Regions from separate parts of the Homo sapiens genome. Here region 1 is linked to region 2. Evidence: fine-mapped expression QTL. A gene starts in region 2. The other region holds a variant in brackets. All regions are shown on one strand. Distances are between the middles of the regions. Region 1 overlaps SBF2 (SET binding factor 2). Region 2 holds the start of ADM (adrenomedullin).

The links. PIP is the estimated chance that this variant, and not a neighbour inherited with it, causes the effect.
Region 1: its variant is fine-mapped to the expression of ADM in whole blood (INTERVAL, PIP 0.94).

Annotation. Positions count from the first base shown.
Region 1 is chr11:10,262,201-10,272,647 of GRCh38, forward strand. The region is part of intron 1 of SBF2 (SET binding factor 2); the gene reads right to left. It also overlaps the pseudogene LOC653503. Among named protein-coding and RNA genes, the nearest start is that of SBF2, 27 kb to the right of the region's middle. The variant G/A (reference allele first, on the strand shown) is at 5,283.
Region 2 is chr11:10,299,214-10,309,660 of GRCh38, forward strand. ADM (adrenomedullin) reads left to right here and starts at 5,860. Exons shown (of 4, transcript NM_001124.3): 1 at 5,860-6,016; 2 at 6,467-6,585; 3 at 6,736-6,885; 4 at 7,119-8,184. The coding sequence starts at 6,488. The coding sequence ends at 7,428. CAND1.11 (a long non-coding RNA gene) reads left to right here and starts at 9,100. Exons shown (of 4, transcript NR_103765.1): 1 at 9,100-9,460. It also overlaps a transcript of SBF2 not described here. RefSeq lists enhancers at 3,568-3,647, 3,668-3,847, 8,701-8,970 and silencers at 4,772-4,831, 5,322-5,421, 5,602-5,651, 6,332-6,381, 6,402-6,451 and 2 more.

The DNA of each region.
Region 1 (10,447 bases), 37 kb before region 2:
CAAAAAAAGATAGATTAGTGGATGATATAGGAATCAACAGATGGAGTAATATATGATAAAACAGGTATAATAAAATGTTAATTGTACAAAGTGTAGGTAGTACTATACAGGCGTTTGGTATAAATTCTTTCAACTTCGTTGTATTTGAAATTTTTCATAATCAAATGTTGTAGAGGAAAAAAAGCCTCATCCAATCCTTCAAAGTGCAACTCAAAATAAACTACTTCCATGAGCCCTTTCCTGTCACCCTCAGCCTTCTGAACCTAGTCTTACTGTCTAGAGCACTCACCTGGCAATATGATAATTATCTTTCCACAGACATCTCATCCTTATAAAATAGACTATAAGCCTCTTAGGGGCTGCTCTCTGATGCGAGGGTAGAAAAGAGTTTAGTGATCTGTTTATTATGCTTTCTATGTATGTATAAATTATTTTATTTTATAAACCGTAACTTCCAAAAGACAACTGTCAGTCAACTAAAATGTAAATACATAGATGTATATGCATACACTACACACACACATTGAAAGCTAAAAACTTTTAACCAAGTATCCTTGATTTTTTTGAGTCCTTGATTAATGAAATATCCTATACCTGCTGAATTCAACTTAATAGTTCATCTATGCAAAAATAATTGGTTGATGCTTTCTCTAAATGTTCTGCAAAGAGCTATGACACCAGAGGTCTCAGATTCTTTACCTGAGGATAAAAGGATCCTCAGGGAGTCTATAATTTTACTACCATATAAGACGAAAAAAAAACTTGCATTAACAAGTAATGACATTCTTTAAAATTAATAAATATTTTATCAGTGTTCAATACAACATTTAATCCTAAAGAAATTGTACTACTTCCCTGTTTTAAAAAATTATATACAATATACATTTAGAATCTTAAAATCTCCTCCTTATAGATACCTTCTTTCTATACCTATTGAAGGCCAATTGATAAATCATTCAAGAATCTTCTGTTATCCTTTTAAATAAAAAAAATCAGCACAATAAATCAACATTTCAGACAAAAGAAAATAAGCACATTATTCATATTTTATATGGTTTTAATAATAATTACACATTTTTATCCCCCAAAGAAAAATTATGAAGCTGGAAGTATCAGATATAGTAAAAATTCAAGTTTTTTTTTAATTTGTGTGAATTATAATGACATAATGCTGGAAGAAACCACACTTTACTTTCTGTTTAGAGGGGTTGCCCTGACTTCCATGTATGAATGATCAAGAGAATGAATTACAGTCTTCTTAAAACCTTAATGATAACTATGGTTAATTCAAGCTACAATAGGTTAATTACTAGTATCAAGAGACATGCAGTAACTTCTACTAGAATAAACTCTGACCTTTAAATAAGTCAGAGACTCTTACTACTAATAAGTACCTAATTAAACATTAGGTTCCTTATTTATAAAGTGAAGGGTTTGTATAAAATCTCTGCTGTACTTAAGAATAGAAGCCTTTGGCTACATTAGAGAATACTCAACTCCATTCACCCGGAAAAATGACATAGAAGAATATACCATATCAAATGAAAACTTTATCCTGGCTGAAATTAAACTCTCTGGAATATATTAAACACATTTGAACATCCTTACGGAAAAGGTGAGGAAACACTTGAACAGTCCAAATTATCCACTTAAAAACGAAAAAACAACAATATCCAAAAATCCCATCATTCAAGCATTATCTGAGGAAAATTATCCAAACAGGTCTTAACAATAACCTGATAACTACAAAAATATTCATGATTTATAAAGTTAATATTAAAAAATAAGAACTACAAGATAATCCAAGGTGCTTATGTGAATGTGCTTCTGCCTTAGGTAAAGCTTACTAAGGAATATTTGTCAACAGCAGGCAGCTTGGAGATCTTCAAGCTTTACATCATCAAATTCCAAGATGGTTTTACTGCCAAACTGCCCTCTTTATAGCTCTTGAGTATTCCTTATAATGGGGAAGGAATGCTCAGCAACCATAATCTTCCTCCCACTCCTATCAGTAACTGGTACAGTGATACTTGGTCACCTTCTTCTCTAATCCAAATACTCACAATACTTCAGGGAAATAAAGCTCAGCTTCTCATTAGAAAAAATGTTGAGAATAACTGACAGAGTTATAATAAAGATCTCACCTATGTATACTAAAAATTCTTTTAGGGAAGATTATATAGGGAGATGCATGCTTGAAAAGAAAATGGGAGCAGAAGGATAGCATCTAGGCTGCCATCCCATCTTAGTATAATTGCTCATTCAATATTAATTCAATATGTATTTACCAAGGGTCTTCCATGTGCCAGGTATTTTGCCAGGTACTACAAAAAAAATGAGCAGAAAACAGTTCCTACTTTATTTATTTTTTTATTTTTGTTAATTTTTAAAATTTTTATTATACTTTAAGTTCTGAGGTACATGTGCAGAACGTGCAGTTTTGTTACATAGTTATATACATGCTACGATGGTTTGCTGCACCTATCAACTCGTCACCTACATTAGGTATTTCTCCTAATACTATCCCTCCCCTAGCCCCCCACCCCCCGACAGGCCCTGGTGTGTGATGCTCCCCTCCCTATGTCCATGTGTTCTCATTGTTCAACTTCCACTTATGAGTGAGAACATGTGGTGTTTGGTTTTCTGTTCTTAGGATAGTTTGCTGAGAATGGTTTCCAGCTTCATCCATGTCCCTGCAAAGGACATGAACCCAACCTTTTTTAAGGCTGCATAGTATTCCATGGTGTCTATGTGCCACATTTTCTTTATCCAGTCTATTATTGATGGACATCTGGGTGGGTTCCAATTCTTTGCTATTGTGAGTAGTGTCGCAGTAAACATACGTGTGCATGTGTCTTTACAGCAGAATGATTTATAATCCTTTGGGTACATACTCAGTAACAGGATTGCTAGGTCAAATGGTATTTCTAGTTCTAGATCCTTGAGGAATTGCCACTCTGTCTTCCACAATGGTTGAACTAATTCACCCTCCCACCAACAATGTAAAAGCATTCCTATTTCTCCGCATCCTCTCCAGCATTCTGTTGTTTCTTGACTTTTTAATGACTGCCATTCTAACTGGTGTGAGATGGTTATTTCACTGTGGTTTTGATTTGCATTTCTCTAATGACCAGTGATGATGAGCATTTTTTTCATATGCATGTTGGCTGCATAAATGTCTTCTTTTGAGAAGTGTCTGTTCATATCCTTTGCCCACTTTTTGATGGGGTTGTTTTTTTCTTGTAAATTTAACAGTTTCTATCTTTAAAAGCTCACAGTCAAGTGCAGAAATCGGGGGGGGGGAGAGGTGGGGGGGTATCAACACAGGGTATCTTTTTAAAATATGTCAATGAATATACAAACATACAGTCAATATAAAAAATCTAGAGAACTCAATGAAAACCACATGCAGCTTAAATTCTGTGAAACACGCCTAAATATTATGGACTTATGTGAAGAACATATATGCACCTATGTAAATAATAATAGCTGCCTTCTTTTTGAGACAGGGTCTCGCTCTGTTACCCAGGTTGGAGTACAAGTGGTGCAATCATGGCTCACCACAGCCTCAACCTCCCAGGCTCAAGCACTCCTCCCTCCTGCCTCAGCCTCTCAAGTAGATGGGATCACAGGTGCACACCACCAGGCCAGGCTAATTGTGTGTGTGTGTGTGTGCGCGCGCGCATGTGTGTGTGTGTTTTAGAGATGGGGGTCTCATTTTGTTGCCCAGGCTGGTTTTGAACTTCTAGCCTCAAGTGATCCTCTCACCTTGGTCTCCCAAAGTGCTGGGATTACAGGCATGAGCCATCATGCCTGGCAGCCCAACCTGCCATTTTTTTTAGTACTTTTTCGGCTAGGCAGAAGACCTTGCTTATCAGTTCATTTAATCCTCATAACAATCACATGAGGCAGCTACTACTCATACTTTTATCCCAGATTTACAGAGGATAAACTCAGCTCTGTAGTTAAATGATTTGTCCACAGCCACATTCCAATAGGTGGCTAAGCACAAACTCAGGTTGTTTGACGCTAGAACTTAATGCTACTTGTGACCAGTCAATCGCCATGCTACCTCATACAGACCCTCACTGCAGAATTACAGAGGAGAGGACACTATTTGTGCAATTAAAGACCTCTCGGCCAAGGACAGAGCACTGAGACTGTAAAGGACTAGGAGACACTGATCACTATGGGGAGGGGATATCCCTGCATGCAGGACAACAGGACCCAGGCTAGATACGGGTAAATGCAGATTTCCTCTGCTACTGACACTGTTTAGATACCGTGAGACATTCTGAGTATGAAGTTGAAGCTAGTAGCAAACTACTCAAAGATTAAATACAAAGTGACATAAACATTCCTTTTAAAAAAAAATTACTCTGGTGGCAATATGGAACTAGCTAGAGAAGAATTTAACTGAAAGCAAGGAAATAAAGAGATGTCTACACTTGATTAGTTATTTCCTAACAGCTATGATGATGATGACAGTGATGATGATGGTGATAACAGAAGCTCCAATTTTAACATGAGGGATATGGACCACATTTCCCAGGATAAGTTTTGGCCAAAGGAAACGTAGTTGATTTTGGCCTTTAAACGGAAGAGGGTCCGGGCGTGGTTGCTCACGCCTGTAATCCCAACACTTTGGGAAGCCGAGGCTGGCAGATGGTTTGAGGTCAGGAGTTCGAGACCAGCCTGGCCACCACAGTAAAACCCCGTCTCTACCGAAAATATAATACAAAAATTAGCCAAGTGTAGTGGCACATGCCTTTAATCCCAGCTACTTAGAAGGCTGAGGCAGGAGAATCGCTTGAACCTGGGAGGATGAAGTTGCAATGGGCCGAGATCGTGCCACTGCACTCCAGCCTGGGTGACAGTGAGACTCCATCTCAAAAATAAATTAAATTAAATTAAATTACATTAAATTAAATTAAAAAGGGAAGGGGGCTATCTCTTCTTCCCTACTTCCTCCATCCTCCTACTTGGAATATAGATGGGATGGAGCTGAGATGCTAAGTACAAAGCTAGAAGCAGCCTGGTCCAGATGGCTATACAAACCCGAAACTGTCTACACCCAGACTTTAACTTTTAAAGAAATAAGTTTCTATATTGTTTGAGACACTTAAGTCCCTATTACTGGAAGCCAAACCTCTATCCTAACAGAGTGCACTTTATAGTAATCCGAGTAAGAACTGATAAGGGCCTAAACTATGGCAGTGACTGTGAAAACAGAGGAAAAAAAAGATGTGAGAAAATTTTGAGGGAAAAAAAAACAACACTTT[G/A]AAGTGAAGGTGAGAGAGAAAGGAGTGTGGCAAGTTTCTGACTTGAGCGAATGGCCAAGGGGAAGAGGTTTGAATGAGCCAGATATGCTTGAACATGCTGCATTTTCTTTTCTTTCTTTTTTTTTGAGACAGGGTCTTACTCCTACTTGGAATATAGATGGGATGGAGCTGAGTGGCTAAGTACAAAGCTAGAAGCAGCCTGGTCCAGATGGCTATACAAACCCGAAACTGTCTACACCCAGACTTTATTCTTCTACAACCAAATTCCTCAAACACACAATCTGAACAGTAGCAGTGAAAGGGAGTTTAAGGTGGGGGTGAGGGAGAAGGGAGTAATATGGTTTTTTAGTAATATAGTAATTTACATTTTCAAAAATCTTCAGTGTTTCACTATCTTAAATGAATATTTATTCTGTTGTTCCTCTCATTTCTTTCCTCCTGTTAAAAAAATGACTTTTATTAACTCCAATCTCATGTGGATTTGGGTTTACTCACGCTAAGATTTGGTAAAACATCTGTCTCCAAAGAAAAACAAGTAACATTCTTTTCAAATTCCCTAGAAGACCGCGTAGGACAAGTATATGAAGCATTTATAAAATTCACTCCAGTCCCAACTGCTACTTTCCACTGTGAATTAATTTTCATACTATTATTGTCCAAGTTTGTTCTGACACTTGATTTCTCTCTGTAAATGTTACTAGAATTAACTTAAGCTAGGAAAAACAAAGGACATAGTTTTACCTACAAGCAGATGTCATTAACTATACAGATTTTTTTTTCCACTTAAAAACTTGCCACAAAACCACTTATTTTCTTTAAACAAGAATCTTCCATTTTAAGTTCTTAAACCTATATTTTAAATTACTATAAGGACAGAATGTTTGCTTGAAGAAAAAAAATAGAGAGATGTCAAGTTCCCAAACAATTTGTTTTCTTCAAATCATGGTATTAGTGAACCTTGTAAATTATTAATACAGTACACAAAAAGCTACAATGGATCAACGAAAAAGATGACATTTATAGAATGGTGTCATCAGTGGAAAATAGCCCTTTCCAGAAACAACACAAATTCTTTCTCCTAACTCAGTCTGTTAGGAAAATCACCAAAAGCCCTTCAACTGTCTACTCAATAAACAATCAGTAAATAATTGTTTACTTCCCAGTGTGTAAAGCATTCTGCTAAAAAAGTAGTAGTCTCTCTGTTGAAAGGACATTTTTTCCAGTTTCAAAAGTTTCTCTACGGATAGCATACTGTGATATATTTGGGCCATGCTCTCAAGGAACTCTTTTTCAGTCTAAAAAAATTAGACAAATGTAAACGGAAAGACCTTGAAATTTTCAGAACTCCAATTCCTTGTTTCAAACATTTCTAGGACACAGTAAAGACCAAAGACAAGCAGCAAAATGTTTCAGAGATGTAATCTGAAGGTCTGATCTCTCTGAACCAGCCCCTTAGCATCTTCGTCTTCATGAAGCTATGCAGTTTCCTCTGTTGTTTCTTAAGCAATACCTCATTAAGTGATTTTTTTTTCCTAATTAAAATCTCCCTGAAGGAAGTAGGTATACTCCCATACTACTACTGAGAGTATAAACTGACACATCTTTCTGCAAGGCATTTTAGCAATATACCTCAAAACTATTCAAAATGTTCTTTTGGCTTTCAGAAACAGCTGGAACCAGAAGTTTAGATAATGTTTCCAGAGCTATGTCTGTCTTTTCATTTTTTGACTATCCTTGCCTCAGCTTGTGTTCAATACTCAGAGACTCTCTAAACACAGTAAGGAAAACACACACTGGCAGCCTCAACTTAATCACAGTATCTTACCTTAGTCATCCTAGTGGGAAAAGATAGGCGTGCCAGTTTGTTCCAAAAGAAAACACCCAAGCTCTAACCGGTCCAGCTTAAAGTAGAGGGTAGGGTAACTAGGACTGAAACTTTCCCTGGAACCGTAGAGAAAAGAAGGCATGGTTCCCAAAGGAAGGGATGCCAGGAAGAAAATTCACATATGTCCATATAAACATACATATCCTTGACCCGGCAGTTCCATTTCTATGATGAAAATGTGGCACTATTATTGTGTACCAGACACTGTTTTACTTTACATGAAATAACTCATTTAATCTTCACAACATCTCTATGAGGTAGATACTACTATTTACTATTATCCAATTTTATGAATGCAGAAACTGAGACAGAAAAATTAAGTAACTTGTCTAAAGCCAGAACTACTAGGAGGCAAAACCAAGAATCAAGCTCAGACTATGTGGCTCCATCCCACACTTTATCTATTTTTGTAGAAATGGGGTCCCACTCTGTCACCTAGGCTAGAGTACAGTAGTGCAATCATAGCTCACTGGAACCTCAAATTCCTGGTTTGAAATGATCCTCCCACCTCAGCCTCCCAACTTGCTGGGATTACAGGAGTGAGCCACCACATCTAGCTCATCCCACACTTCTAACTTTTCTACTACTAAAATTTACTGCCTCTCTATTTGATCCTGAGAAATTAAAAATCAATGCAAAAATCTGGCTAGAACAATTCATCACAGCACTATTTATAACAGCAAAAATTTGGAAATAACAAAATTATCTAACCATGAGATTAACTGATAAATTTATTTACTTTAAATTATATATTAAAATGATAAAAACATTTTGTAGTTAATAAAAATTGATGTTATGTTTTATATATACAAAGTTGTCCCTGGAATAACTCAAGGGTTAGATGCACCAACCCCTGTGCAGTCAAAAATCTACATATAACTTATGACTCCCCAAAAAACTTTACTACTAATAGCCTACTCTTGACCAGAAGCCTTACAGATAACATAAATGGTAGATTAATACATATTGTTAATGTTTATATGTATTATATAATGTATTCTACAATAAAGCAGACTAGAGAAAAGAAAATGTTATTAATAAAATCATAAGAAAACACAGTTACTATTAAGTGGAAGCAGATCATCACAAAGGTCTTCATCCTTATTGTCCTCATGTTGAGTAGGCTGAGGAGGAGGAAGAGGAAGGGTTATTCTTGCTGTCTCAAGGGTAGCAGAGGCAGAAAAAAATGTGTATAAGTGGACCAACGCAGTTCAAATCCATGTTGTTGAAGAGTCAACTGTATATAGAACATGGAAAGCTTCCAATAACATGCAGATAAGTTTTAAAAACACAGCTTATATAAATGGATAGATGCTATAAACATGTTTTTAAGAAGTAAAATGAGGACGGGCGCGGTGGCTCACGCCTGTAATCCCAGCACTTTGGGAGGCCGAGGTAGGCGGATCACAAGATCAGGAGATTGAGACCATTGTGGCTAACACGCTGAAACCCCGTCTCTACTAAAAAACGGAAAAAAGTTAGCCAAGCCTGGTGGCGGGGGCCTGTAGTCCCAGCTACTGGGGAGGCTGAGGCAGGAGAATGGCGTGAACCCGGGAGGCGGACCTTGCAGTGAGCCAAGATTGTGCCACTGCACTCCAGCCTGGGCGACAGAGCAAGACTCTGTCTCAAAAAAAAAAAAAAAAAAAAAAAAAAAGTAGTAAAATTAATTATACATATATACGTATATGGATGCACACAAAAATCTCTGGAAATACATATGTTAAAATGTCAGCAGTATGCCACTTCTTACCCACTGGAGTGGTTATGATCAAAAAGACAGAATAACAAGGGAGTAGCAATTGCAAAACCAAGGACAGCAATCTTGATTCTTTTTTTTTTTTTTTTTTGAAGTTAAGAATTCTTTTAGGTTGTAATATTTTCATGTTAGTTTTTAATCATTTACAATGTTCTGTGGGTCACATTTTAAACATTTTTAAATATATGAAATTCTGTATTTCTTTAAGTACAGCCACAACTACAAAGCAGAGAAACGTAAGAATACAAAAATCAAATCTGCTTCATTTATATACACGATGGGGCAGCCTAATGCACATCATAACATTAACTTTTCCAAAGAAGTTTGCTAAGAATCTGCTCCCATAATTAGTGTTAAAAATAAAGCAATCTTCCCATTTAGAAAAATCAAGACATCAGTTGATTAATAAAGCCTATTCTTCCTCCCAGCAATTTGTACTTTCTGGTCTTCATTTAGGAATTATAAATTCATGAGAAAAGAACAAATTTTTTATGGAATAAATAACTTCCAGGAACAACAGTTTATAAGTATTCAGTTGTTTAAATAAACAAAACTATTTTCCTTCCTAAAATGTAAACATCCAGTAAATGAAACATACATGATATTCCAGGTATAGAAATCTTAGTAACTCACTTATGAAAGAGGTGCATTTTGGTATGTTTGGTGGTAAGGTTTTTGTTTATCTTATGTATAAAAGTACTTGCACAAAAAAACAAGCAGTTATTACTATTTAAAATTCTATTCCTTCACCCAGTTTTCTCACTCAAGTAGAAACTCATGAATATCTGTGATTTTGGCTATAGGACCAGGCCACAGGAAAGGGCTGAAATATCTCTAAAAGTTAGGTAAAAGTGTTTTCTTGAGACTTGAAGGCAGTCATTCATCACTTTGTGCTTGAAGGCATTCCTCAGCAAACTTCTCTCGAGTCTTCAGAGTAAAGCACAGGATCTAGGCTCCCGGAAGGGGTTACTTCCAGCTGGAACACCCACCAGCAGGGCATCCTTGCAGGCATTCTGCATACAGTACTGTTGAAGCTCTGCAGCTGCCTGAGAGACCTTGATCCTCTCCACGCCAGCCTCCAACTTGAGCTGCTCTACCAAGAGCTGCAGGGCGCTCGCGCTAGCCCCGGAGGACATGGCGGCGGCGCTGGGCTCCTAGGGGCTGCAGCAATCTTGATTCTTTAGGAGAATGACAAGTCGTTCACTGTAACTAAGGCTTACTTACTTGCTAGTTACCAGTTACTCACACAATTTCCTTAAGTCTTGCAACAATTTCTTCAATAACTTCAAACCTCATGAGCCACAAGTACAAACAACCCTGGGCAAACACGGTGATTTCACCATACCATTTCTTTAAAATTATTCATTAAAAATAAAAAATACCAGGCCAGGCACACTGGCTTACGCCTGTAATCCCAGCACTACCAAAGTGCGAACTCACCAGTTCAAGACCAGCCAGGGCAACACGGCAAAACCCCGTCTCTACTAAAAATACAAAAATTAGCCAGGCATGGTGGCATGTGCC
Region 2 (10,447 bases):
TGTAGTCCCAGCTACTCAGGAGGCTGAGGCAAAAGAATGGCGTGAACCCAGGAGGCAGAGCTTGCAGTGGGTCGAGATGGCACCACTGCACTCCAGCCTGGGCAACAGAGCAAGAGTCCATCTCAAAAAAAAAAAAAAAAAAAAAGGAAGTGTCCTGCAGTTGCGGTCCATGTGTGATGAGATGAATGGTTGAATCTTAACATTCATTTGAAGTACCCCTGACATTAGCAGCTACAGTATATATAGGTACTGTAAGAGTTTACAAGCTACTTTTACTTAGATCACATGTTTGATGAGCAGGACTGGCTACATAATATGTGGAGTCCAGTGCAAAATGAAAATGTAGGACTGCCTGTTCAGAAATGTTGGAGAATTTCAAAACAGCTTCAGCAGAGCATTCCACCAAGTGTGGGCTCTTCTGAGAGCAGGCCGTGTGCTACTGAACAGAGTGTATGTCAGTGAAGCTGGTGAACTTTAGGATGGAATGAGTATGTGTATGTGGGGAGGGGGTATAATAAATGTTATGGGGGGACTAGACTCTCTGCAGTCTCTCCAGAGTACCACCACCGTGCTGCTTCCTTTCTTGCACCTTTCTAATCTATCTACCACATTCCATAGCCAAAACGATTGTTTAAATAAATGTATATCAGATCATGTCTCTCCTGTCTTCAAACCTGTCAATAGTTTTCCATGTCACCATAAATAAAGTGCAAAATCTTCATGTCGGAAAGGGTCCTATTTACTCTGACCCTGATGACCTCTTTAATCTCATTTCAGGCCTCTTTTCTCTATCATTCTATGCATTCCTATCAAACAGGACTCCTTTCATTTTTTCTAATGTACCAAGTTCTTTCCCATCTCTGAGTGTTTGCACATGCTGTTTCCTCCATTTCGAATATTAGATCCCCCTAGTCTTGCTTTTTCTTCAGAATACTTAACACAGTTTATAATCATGTAAATACATAATTCTGATAAGGATTTGTTTATATCTGGCTACGTCACTAGGCTGTAAGCTCGTTGAGGGTAAGTTTGTTGATGACTGCATTGGTGATTACTGTATGTTGAGAACTTAGCACAGTGCTGGGTATATAATATATAATCAGTAAATATTTGTTGAAAGAATGAAAAAACTATCAATTCATTCAGGCTTATAAATCAGAATTGCTTCTTGGCTGAGCACAGTGGCTCATACCTGTAATCCTAGCACTTTGGTAGGCCAAGGCGAGTGGATCTCTTGAGATCAGGAGTTCAAGACCAGCGTGGGCAACATGATGAAACCACATCTCTATAAAAAGAAAAAAATATATATAAATATATATACATATATAAAATAATTGCTTCTTTCCAGGTGCTTCTAATCTGATATCACAGGATCCCTATCTGGAGACAAGTAGCATGATGGTTGCTTTCATTAACACCATTCTCTTTGGCTATGGATGATTCAAATGGCCTAATCATCTCTTTTATCATCCATTCATTAATGCCATTTATTGTGCCCTCTGTAGCAAATTTCTCTTGAAGTAATTTCATTTTGTCCTGTTACAGGTATTATTGTAACAAGCTTCTTTAGGTTTACTACTTTCTCTTCTCTCTCTCTCTTTTTTTTTTTTTTTCTTTGTAGGGATGGATTTTTGCCATGTTGCCAGGCTGGTCTTGAACTCCTGAGCTCAAGAGATCCACTTGCCTCAGCCTCCCAAAGTGCTAGGATTACAGGCACGAGCCACTGTACTGGACCATCTCTTCTCTTTCATTTGTTCTGCAGTAATTTACCTTATTTAAGCTTCAGGGAGGTTTGCCTTCTGGCTTTACCATGTACAAGAACTGACTGTTACTCTCTGCCTGTTTTGTACAGGAGCACAAAAATGAGGCAGCAAACGCATTACTTTTCTTTATGCTGATGCTCTGGAAAATATTATGCCCTAAAGAGGGAGGTTAACTGTCCTCCTTGCCCTTACCACTATAAACCAGACAGAAATTTAAAATATGGAAACAGTGTTTTTTATTCTGTGTCAGGGTTTTAAACTTGGTCAACCTCCCGGAACTGTATGCCTATTTTATACTTTAATCGGTTTATGTACATGTTCATTTTTCTGGAAAGGATCTATATTTTTATTAGGTCCTTAGAGAAGTCAGAGATCCCAAAAAAGTGCCCTGGGCTTTGTATCCTGCTTTACTTCTCCTTGTAAGTGATCAAATCCACAAGGCTGATTGTGTTCTTTCTCTAAATCACTTTGTGTTATGACTTCAGGATGCATCTTGAACTTTGTTTTCAAGTGAACTTTGTAAACAAGTCCTCAGCTTAAAAGACATTTTGAACTATATTAATAATAAATGCATCATAAAATTTCCTGTTTGATAAAGGAGGCATCTGAGATAATTATGCAATGCACTTAGCTACTCACATTTTAGTTATTCTTATTAATATCATTGATATTTATTATTTTTCAATGCTTCTCTGAAAGACCTGAGTATGGCCACTCTGGCTTTAAGAACTGTGTCCACAGTGCTAGCTGAGAAACCACTACCACATATTTTTTTAAACTCCAAACTTTACTAAGAATCAGGCTTGGATATAGGGCCTAAAAATCATTCAATTGGAATGTGAAGAAGTTGAAACACCATTACGCAAAAACCCTTTAGCATATGTGTATGTGTGTCTCCCTAATGTCAGGATGTACACATTTATTACAGTGGTTTGGAGGTTTATTTGTAATCTGACCTTTTGAAATTCTGGAGCACACAAAAAAAGTAGATCTTCATTAACAAGGATTTTTTTTTCTTTTTCTTTTCTCTTTTCTTGCCAGAAATTTAAAGATGTTTCTTCCTTCACTTCCTTCCTTCCTTGTACTGTCCTTGCTCAACGTGAATCTACAATCACTGCCACTTGAATGGATGCAACTTATGTTAATAAATTGCCAGGATCAGAACTCCCACTGCAGCATTTCCTTCTCCATAGAACCACTGAACCAGAAATGCATTCTAGTGATTTTTTTTTGTCGTTAACGATGATTAATTAAACAAACTCGAGATTTCACGAGAAAAAACATAGATGCCCAGATTTAACAAACTCCTTATCTTTTTTCGACTTAAACCCACGAAGCTTTGGGGAGCACTCTAGCCCCTGCTACTCACCCATGCAAGCGGGGTGCGCGCTCGCGCACACACTCACTCACTCCAAGATAGGGGCTTTCTAGGAAAATACTTTGAGCTGCCAATCCAAGATTTTACTTAAAGAATTGACTTGGTTCTCAAGTGACAGATCTCTAAGTGCCAGAGCGGCAAAGTGCACCAGGCTGATAAAGTGCATGCCAAGACTCTCAGGTGGGAATTCTTGTCACAGCCAAGAGGTTGCTGGCATAGGCACCCGAGGCTGGCAGAGCCTAGCCTCTGAGTCTCCCTACACTCCTGGGCTTGCTTTCCTTTTTGAAGCTGCCTGCAGCTCAAAGAGGAGTTTGAACCAAGGGCACTTGCTTCGCGATCCTCCTGGCAGAGCCACAGCTCAAGTTTCCCCCACGGAATCACGAGCTTTTGTAAAGGGCAGCGAGGAGGCAGCGAGGTGGCAGCGAGGTACAGTCGCAGAGTTCTCTGGAGAACGAACACCCCCGCCGCGCCCCACCCCCCAGGACTGGTGGAGACTGGAAGGAACGAGTCCAGACCACGGGACCTTCCCTGGCCGTGGGCCGACGCCTAGCTGTCCTTGACCTCCCCAGCAGTCGGAGGCGCGCGCGGGAGAAATGAAAGTAAAACCTGTCCTGGCGCGGAACCAAGTGGAAGCTGGCGACAAGTAGGTCGCATCCTCAGAGCGACTGATAGCCAGTCCTGGATCTGCGCGAAGAGCTTGACTCGCAGAGGATAAAGTGAAAGGAAAAGGAAATGGGAGACAAGGGAGAAGAACAATAGTTAGGCTGGGGAGGCTCCTGGTCACCGAGCAGGCGTTCAGTAATAGCTGCTGTCTGCGGTGCAGACGGACTAGTCGCCCGGCCAGGCCACTTCGGTGACTGCCCTGCGCCCAGCCGGGCGGCCGGATCCAGACCAGTGCGCCGCGCTGCACTCCTCTAACCCTCCGCGTCCCAACCCCTTACCAGGGCCAGGGTCAGGGCCCGGAATCTGTCCTCCGTCCTCAGATGGAATTCAGGTCCGCTCAGGTGACTCCTTCCAGGAAGAGTCCTTAAATAACTTCCGCGCGGCCATTTCTTCCCCAGGTGCAATGTCCACTGTTGAGTCCCGAGAGTGAAAAGGCAGCTAAGCCAGCAGTGCGCGGCCCAGACAGACCACTCTGGGCAAGGTCCGCGCGACCCACTGCCCAGCCGCCTTTGCACCGGAGCTCAGAGCCATATGGCAGAGTAGGAAGGAAGCTTAAAGGTCTGCTGGGGACCGGCTCTAAGATGGGGACTCGAGAGATGGGACATGACTCGCCCACCTTCACACAGCGAATTGCCGGGAGGTGAGGACTAGAAGCCTGTTTGGCTAGTGGTCTCGCACCTTTGGCCTCTCCGTCGAGTCGCTGGGCTTCAGGACATTCGATTAGAGGAGTGGTTAGTAGGACCCCAGAAACCCACAAGCACGAAGCAGGAAGCCCCGTGGCTTAGCCTTTCCTTCCCAGTTTGGCCCCCAGGAGAGAAGTAAGAAAGAGAAGAAGCTGTGATGAAAGAGCACAAACGGGTGACAAACGTGTCTAGCGTGATTCATCATGAACAGGCACAAATTCTTTGGGCGGGGGCTAGGACTCTCCTTTGCCCCTTGAGAAGTTGGTGACCCCAGCCTAGAGGAATCCACGCCGCGCCCCAGTCGGCCGTGCTAGCGTGTCGGGCCGAGTAGGGACTCTGCTGCTTCCTACCTGCAGGGTGACTTCCCCTCTCTGCAGATACCTCCCCTCTCTGAGCTTGAATTTTCTACCTGCTGAAATGGGAAAAGGAATGTTACCTTCCTTGCCTGACTCAAGGGTGGCTGTGAAGCTCAAAGTAGACTGGGATGTGGCCGTGCTTGGTAAACTGTAAAATGATTAGCATACGTGAAGCGTTAGTGTGCTCCCTGGCAGTCAGTCCTCACGTTTACGATGGATTAATGAAGGCAGCCAGGCACAATCTCAGGTTATGACCTTATAAGGCATAATAGGATTACAAGGAGGCAAAATGAAACAGTATATTTCCTCCTAATTTTGGTTATTCCTATGTTTCCAAATAGAAATGAAAATTCTGAAATTTCAGATAATTCCCCCCTCCAAATCCCAATTCTCAATTTAGCTTTTCTGAGCCTTGTCCCTACCGTGAAATCTTACTAGCTCACCCCGAAACGCCGGGGTCTTGGTCCTCTGGGGGACTAGTGAGTCCTGCTCCTCTCGGCTTTGCTCCGTCCCTGCCCCGGCCCCTCCGCGGGAGTCTGGGGTCGCGGCCCGGTCAGGCGCCAAGCCGGCAGGGGGGCGCGGTCCACTTGAGGCCACAGCTCCCCAGGTCCAGGGCTCGGGCCATCCGCGCTGTCCCTTCCGCGGGCTCTTGCTGTTCTTCGCCAGGAGGCTTTGCACTCCGGGCCGCATGGGTCCTGGATAAGGACCTCAAGAGGTTGTAGTGGCGCCCCTTCGCTCCGGCGTACTGTCTGAACCCTGTGCCCAAAGAGGGCTGTGGCAGTTCCTGCACCAACCGCCTGGAGCCCATACCTAAGCCCTCTGGGCACGAGGGACCTCCTCTCCCCCGCTCCCCCCTCCCCCCATCCCAACTCCAGCCCCAAAGGAAGCAATGCGCGCGTCCGAGAGCAGGAGCGCGCGTGGCTGAGGAAAGAAAGGGAAGGCAACCGGGCAGCCCAGGCCCCGCCCCGCCGCTCCCCCACCCGTGCGCTTATAAAGCACAGGAACCAGAGCTGGCCACTCAGTGGTTTCTTGGTGACACTGGATAGAACAGCTCAAGCCTTGCCACTTCGGGCTTCTCACTGCAGCTGGGCTTGGACTTCGGAGTTTTGCCATTGCCAGTGGGACGTCTGAGACTTTCTCCTTCAAGTACTTGGCAGATCACTCTCTTAGCAGGTAGGTGCCGCAGACCCTGCGGGTTAAGAGGTGGGGTGGGGGGCAGTGCTTGCCAAGGCCCTAAACTGGGAGCGCTGGGTGAGGGGAACAACCCACTTTGGAGGGTTCTCTGAGAGATAGATACACCCCATATCCTGGGCCCAGCTCGTGCACACAGCTGGAGGTCCAGAGACCCAGTCCCCTCTGCTCCGTCAGCCAAGTTCCAAGAAGTTGAGCAGAGACCCTCTGGGAGCCTGGCGGGGTGCAGCGGCCTCCCCTGCGGGGCCTGTCACCCGGCCGGCGCGTGCAAACGCCTCTGGCGCCTCTCTGCGCGGAGGGAGATAAGCGTCTGAGCCAGGGAAAGCGCGGGCTAAACCCGCCTCGCCGGGGCCCCTGCCCGCCCTCCGTGCCCCGCCCGGGCGGTGCAGCTGGCCCGGGTGCTCACGCTCGACTCTCTTTCTTCTTTTCCAGGGTCTGCGCTTCGCAGCCGGGATGAAGCTGGTTTCCGTCGCCCTGATGTACCTGGGTTCGCTCGCCTTCCTAGGCGCTGACACCGCTCGGTTGGATGTCGCGTCGGAGTTTCGAAAGAAGTGAGTCCGGGCAGCGCCTTCCCCCTTGCTGGTACCTGGCAGGCAAGGGGAACTGACCGTTGGTCCCGAAGGTCTAGAAGTGAATGGGAGCAGGGACAGGCCTGGGCGTCACCTGAACGCACGCGAATCGGGTCTGCTTGTGTTTTCCAGGTGGAATAAGTGGGCTCTGAGTCGTGGGAAGAGGGAACTGCGGATGTCCAGCAGCTACCCCACCGGGCTCGCTGACGTGAAGGCCGGGCCTGCCCAGACCCTTATTCGGCCCCAGGACATGAAGGGTGCCTCTCGAAGCCCCGAAGACAGGTAACTACGCCCTGTGCTGTCCAGGGACGGGAGGGAAGGAAGGTGTGCGGGAGGAGTTCTCTGTCTCCACTCCCCTGGCCCGGGGGATCGTCGGGGCTGGACCGCAGCTCAGATGGCGCGAGCAGTTTCCAGCTCCCTCTGGCTCTAGAATGGCTCCCGTTCCCGGTGTTGGGGCCAAAGCTCTGCTTGATGGGGTCTCAAGTTGCCTTTCTTCCCCCTCCCCCCGCCCGCAGCAGTCCGGATGCCGCCCGCATCCGAGTCAAGCGCTACCGCCAGAGCATGAACAACTTCCAGGGCCTCCGGAGCTTTGGCTGCCGCTTCGGGACGTGCACGGTGCAGAAGCTGGCACACCAGATCTACCAGTTCACAGATAAGGACAAGGACAACGTCGCCCCCAGGAGCAAGATCAGCCCCCAGGGCTACGGCCGCCGGCGCCGGCGCTCCCTGCCCGAGGCCGGCCCGGGTCGGACTCTGGTGTCTTCTAAGCCACAAGCACACGGGGCTCCAGCCCCCCCGAGTGGAAGTGCTCCCCACTTTCTTTAGGATTTAGGCGCCCATGGTACAAGGAATAGTCGCGCAAGCATCCCGCTGGTGCCTCCCGGGACGAAGGACTTCCCGAGCGGTGTGGGGACCGGGCTCTGACAGCCCTGCGGAGACCCTGAGTCCGGGAGGCACCGTCCGGCGGCGAGCTCTGGCTTTGCAAGGGCCCCTCCTTCTGGGGGCTTCGCTTCCTTAGCCTTGCTCAGGTGCAAGTGCCCCAGGGGGCGGGGTGCAGAAGAATCCGAGTGTTTGCCAGGCTTAAGGAGAGGAGAAACTGAGAAATGAATGCTGAGACCCCCGGAGCAGGGGTCTGAGCCACAGCCGTGCTCGCCCACAAACTGATTTCTCACGGCGTGTCACCCCACCAGGGCGCAAGCCTCACTATTACTTGAACTTTCCAAAACCTAAAGAGGAAAAGTGCAATGCGTGTTGTACATACAGAGGTAACTATCAATATTTAAGTTTGTTGCTGTCAAGATTTTTTTTGTAACTTCAAATATAGAGATATTTTTGTACGTTATATATTGTATTAAGGGCATTTTAAAAGCAATTATATTGTCCTCCCCTATTTTAAGACGTGAATGTCTCAGCGAGGTGTAAAGTTGTTCGCCGCGTGGAATGTGAGTGTGTTTGTGTGCATGAAAGAGAAAGACTGATTACCTCCTGTGTGGAAGAAGGAAACACCGAGTCTCTGTATAATCTATTTACATAAAATGGGTGATATGCGAACAGCAAACCAATAAACTGTCTCAATGCTGATTCATTCTCTCGGCTCGGCTCTCACGTCTAGGAAGGGAGGGTGCCCTGGTCCCGGCCCGCCCAGGAGCCTTGGGGTCCCGCCGCCGGGCTTGGGAAGGTGGGACAGCGGCGCGTGCAGGTGCTGGCCCTACTCTGAGCGGGCTGAGCTGTCACGAGCTCTGTTCTCTGTGTGGGGCGCGCAGAACACGTGTCCTGGGTGCGAATCAGGGCTTCGCGGAGACGCCCGAGGTCACCGCCTGGCGTGGCGGCCGGCGGGGGGTGGGTAGGGGGAGCCCTAGTGGGTTGGCGAGCCTGGACTCTCGGGTTGCGCAACGGAGTCCTAGATTTATAGGGTTGCTCACAGAACCCGGCGCGAAAGCGAGCTTCGAAGAGTTGGGGTGGTCTCTGAGGCCTTCTAAGAGAGGCGTTCCCCCTGCCTGCCGCGGTTGTTAAAGTTCCAAGCCGCCCTAGCAATGCGTGGGGACACCTCCGGAAAACCCAGTAACCCCTAGTAACCCCGGGTCTGCCCGGGCCTGAGCGCCCGCGGGCCGCTGGCTCATGGGCGAGGCTGTAGCGCCCCCTGCAGGCAGCTGAGACAGGCCCAGCGCCGCCAAGCAGTACGTGCGGTTTAATAAGTTCTCCTACGTGGGAGTCAGCACACAGCCTTAATGAAAGAGGAAAGAAAGAAAAAAAAAAAGAGAGAAAGAAACAGTTTGCAGATGCCAACCAGGGCCGTCCTCCTACACCCCCCAGACCTGCACCGCGGCTCCCTGTTCTGGGACAGTGACTCAGCGCCCACACGCTGCGCTGCGTGCAGCTGCCGGCTGGAGGCGGGCAGGACGGACGTGCCGGCGGAACCGTGAGCCTCCGACGGCCTGAGACCTTCATTGTTCCGCCTCCCCTAGCCGCTCACCTCTTCCTTCCTCCTTCCCAAGCCTTTTTTCATTTTTTTCTTCACTTTTCTCCAGCCTTCCTCTCTCTCTCTCCTTCCTTCCTCCTTGCTTTCTTTATATGCCTTATCTTCTGAGAAGGTTGACCCCAGTTCCGGCGATAGACGGACACTAAGCCCCCCTTGAGTGACTAGAAAGGCAGGGGACATAGGAACAGTTAGGACATAAGGGAAGAGTAAAGAGAGGGACCCCTGATTTTGATTTCAGGGTGCCCTGTTTGTCTCATCCAATATCCTGAAGACCCAAGATGGAGACCAGCTACTTGTCCCTTCCAAAAAGCTTCCCTGGCCTTAATGTCAGTGCTTGTAGGTGATCTCAGAAACCTCCCTGGTGAAGAAAACCTGAAGGTGAGTTTGGAGAATGGAAATGTTTCCAGGGTAGCCTACGGCCTTCTGGGGCTTTTGCACATTACAGGGTCCCCTCCGAGGGGCTAGGATGTTTAGTTTCTTGCAGAAGAGGACTGCATACCCACTGAGAGAGAGGGGCCCTACTCTGGGGTCCAGAGATACCTCATTCCAAAGCAGTTTCAATTTAGAAGAAAGTAAACTCGAGTACATAGAATTTCCTTAAGACCATACAAAACCTCAGTTTGGGCACCTGGCTGTTGACAATGCCAATCTCATATAGTTTATTGTCCTGTTTGATCTTAATAATTGTGTGAGGTGTGCCAGAATTGAGGAGGTTAGAAATGCAGCTACAGACCATTCTTGTCCTCAAGGGCCTTTCAGAAAAAGATTCACTTTGTGGGAACTCTGTGCCAGGCACTGAGAAGGTACCAGGCATGTATGAATGAAAGAGTGACTCAAGATTCCTGTCATGGAATTTCTGTGCCAGTGAGTGGGTTCTGGGTGGTCTGAAGGGGCTACAGAAACTGCAGAGAGCAGCAAACACTTAAGCCTCGCAGACAGTGGCGCAAGATTACTCCTTTCCTTGAGCCAAGGTTGTCCTGTAGCCACAAAGCACTCCAGCCAAACCTCACCTTGGCACAGCGTCAGCCAGCAAACAAAGCTGCCAAAGGCAGGTTGGGCACAAGCTTCGGGCGGTTGTGAGCAGGGAACAGGCGTCTAGCCTTGTGCTGAGGAAGTCTTATGACTTGAGGGAATCCAAGGCAAGTGAAGGAGATGGTTCAGCCCTAAGACAAAAGAGGCAGCTGCTCAGCTGGAGTCCTTCCCGCTGAGAATCCTGTGACTGGAGACATGTGCGAGGAGACAGAGACCCTCCTAAGACCAGTTTGGTATGAGTTCAGGATTAACCAAAGGTCACCATCAAACCCCGGGCTCTTCTCTTTGAGGTGCTGAAGCTTATCAGGATAGGGACTATTGATGCCAAGAACA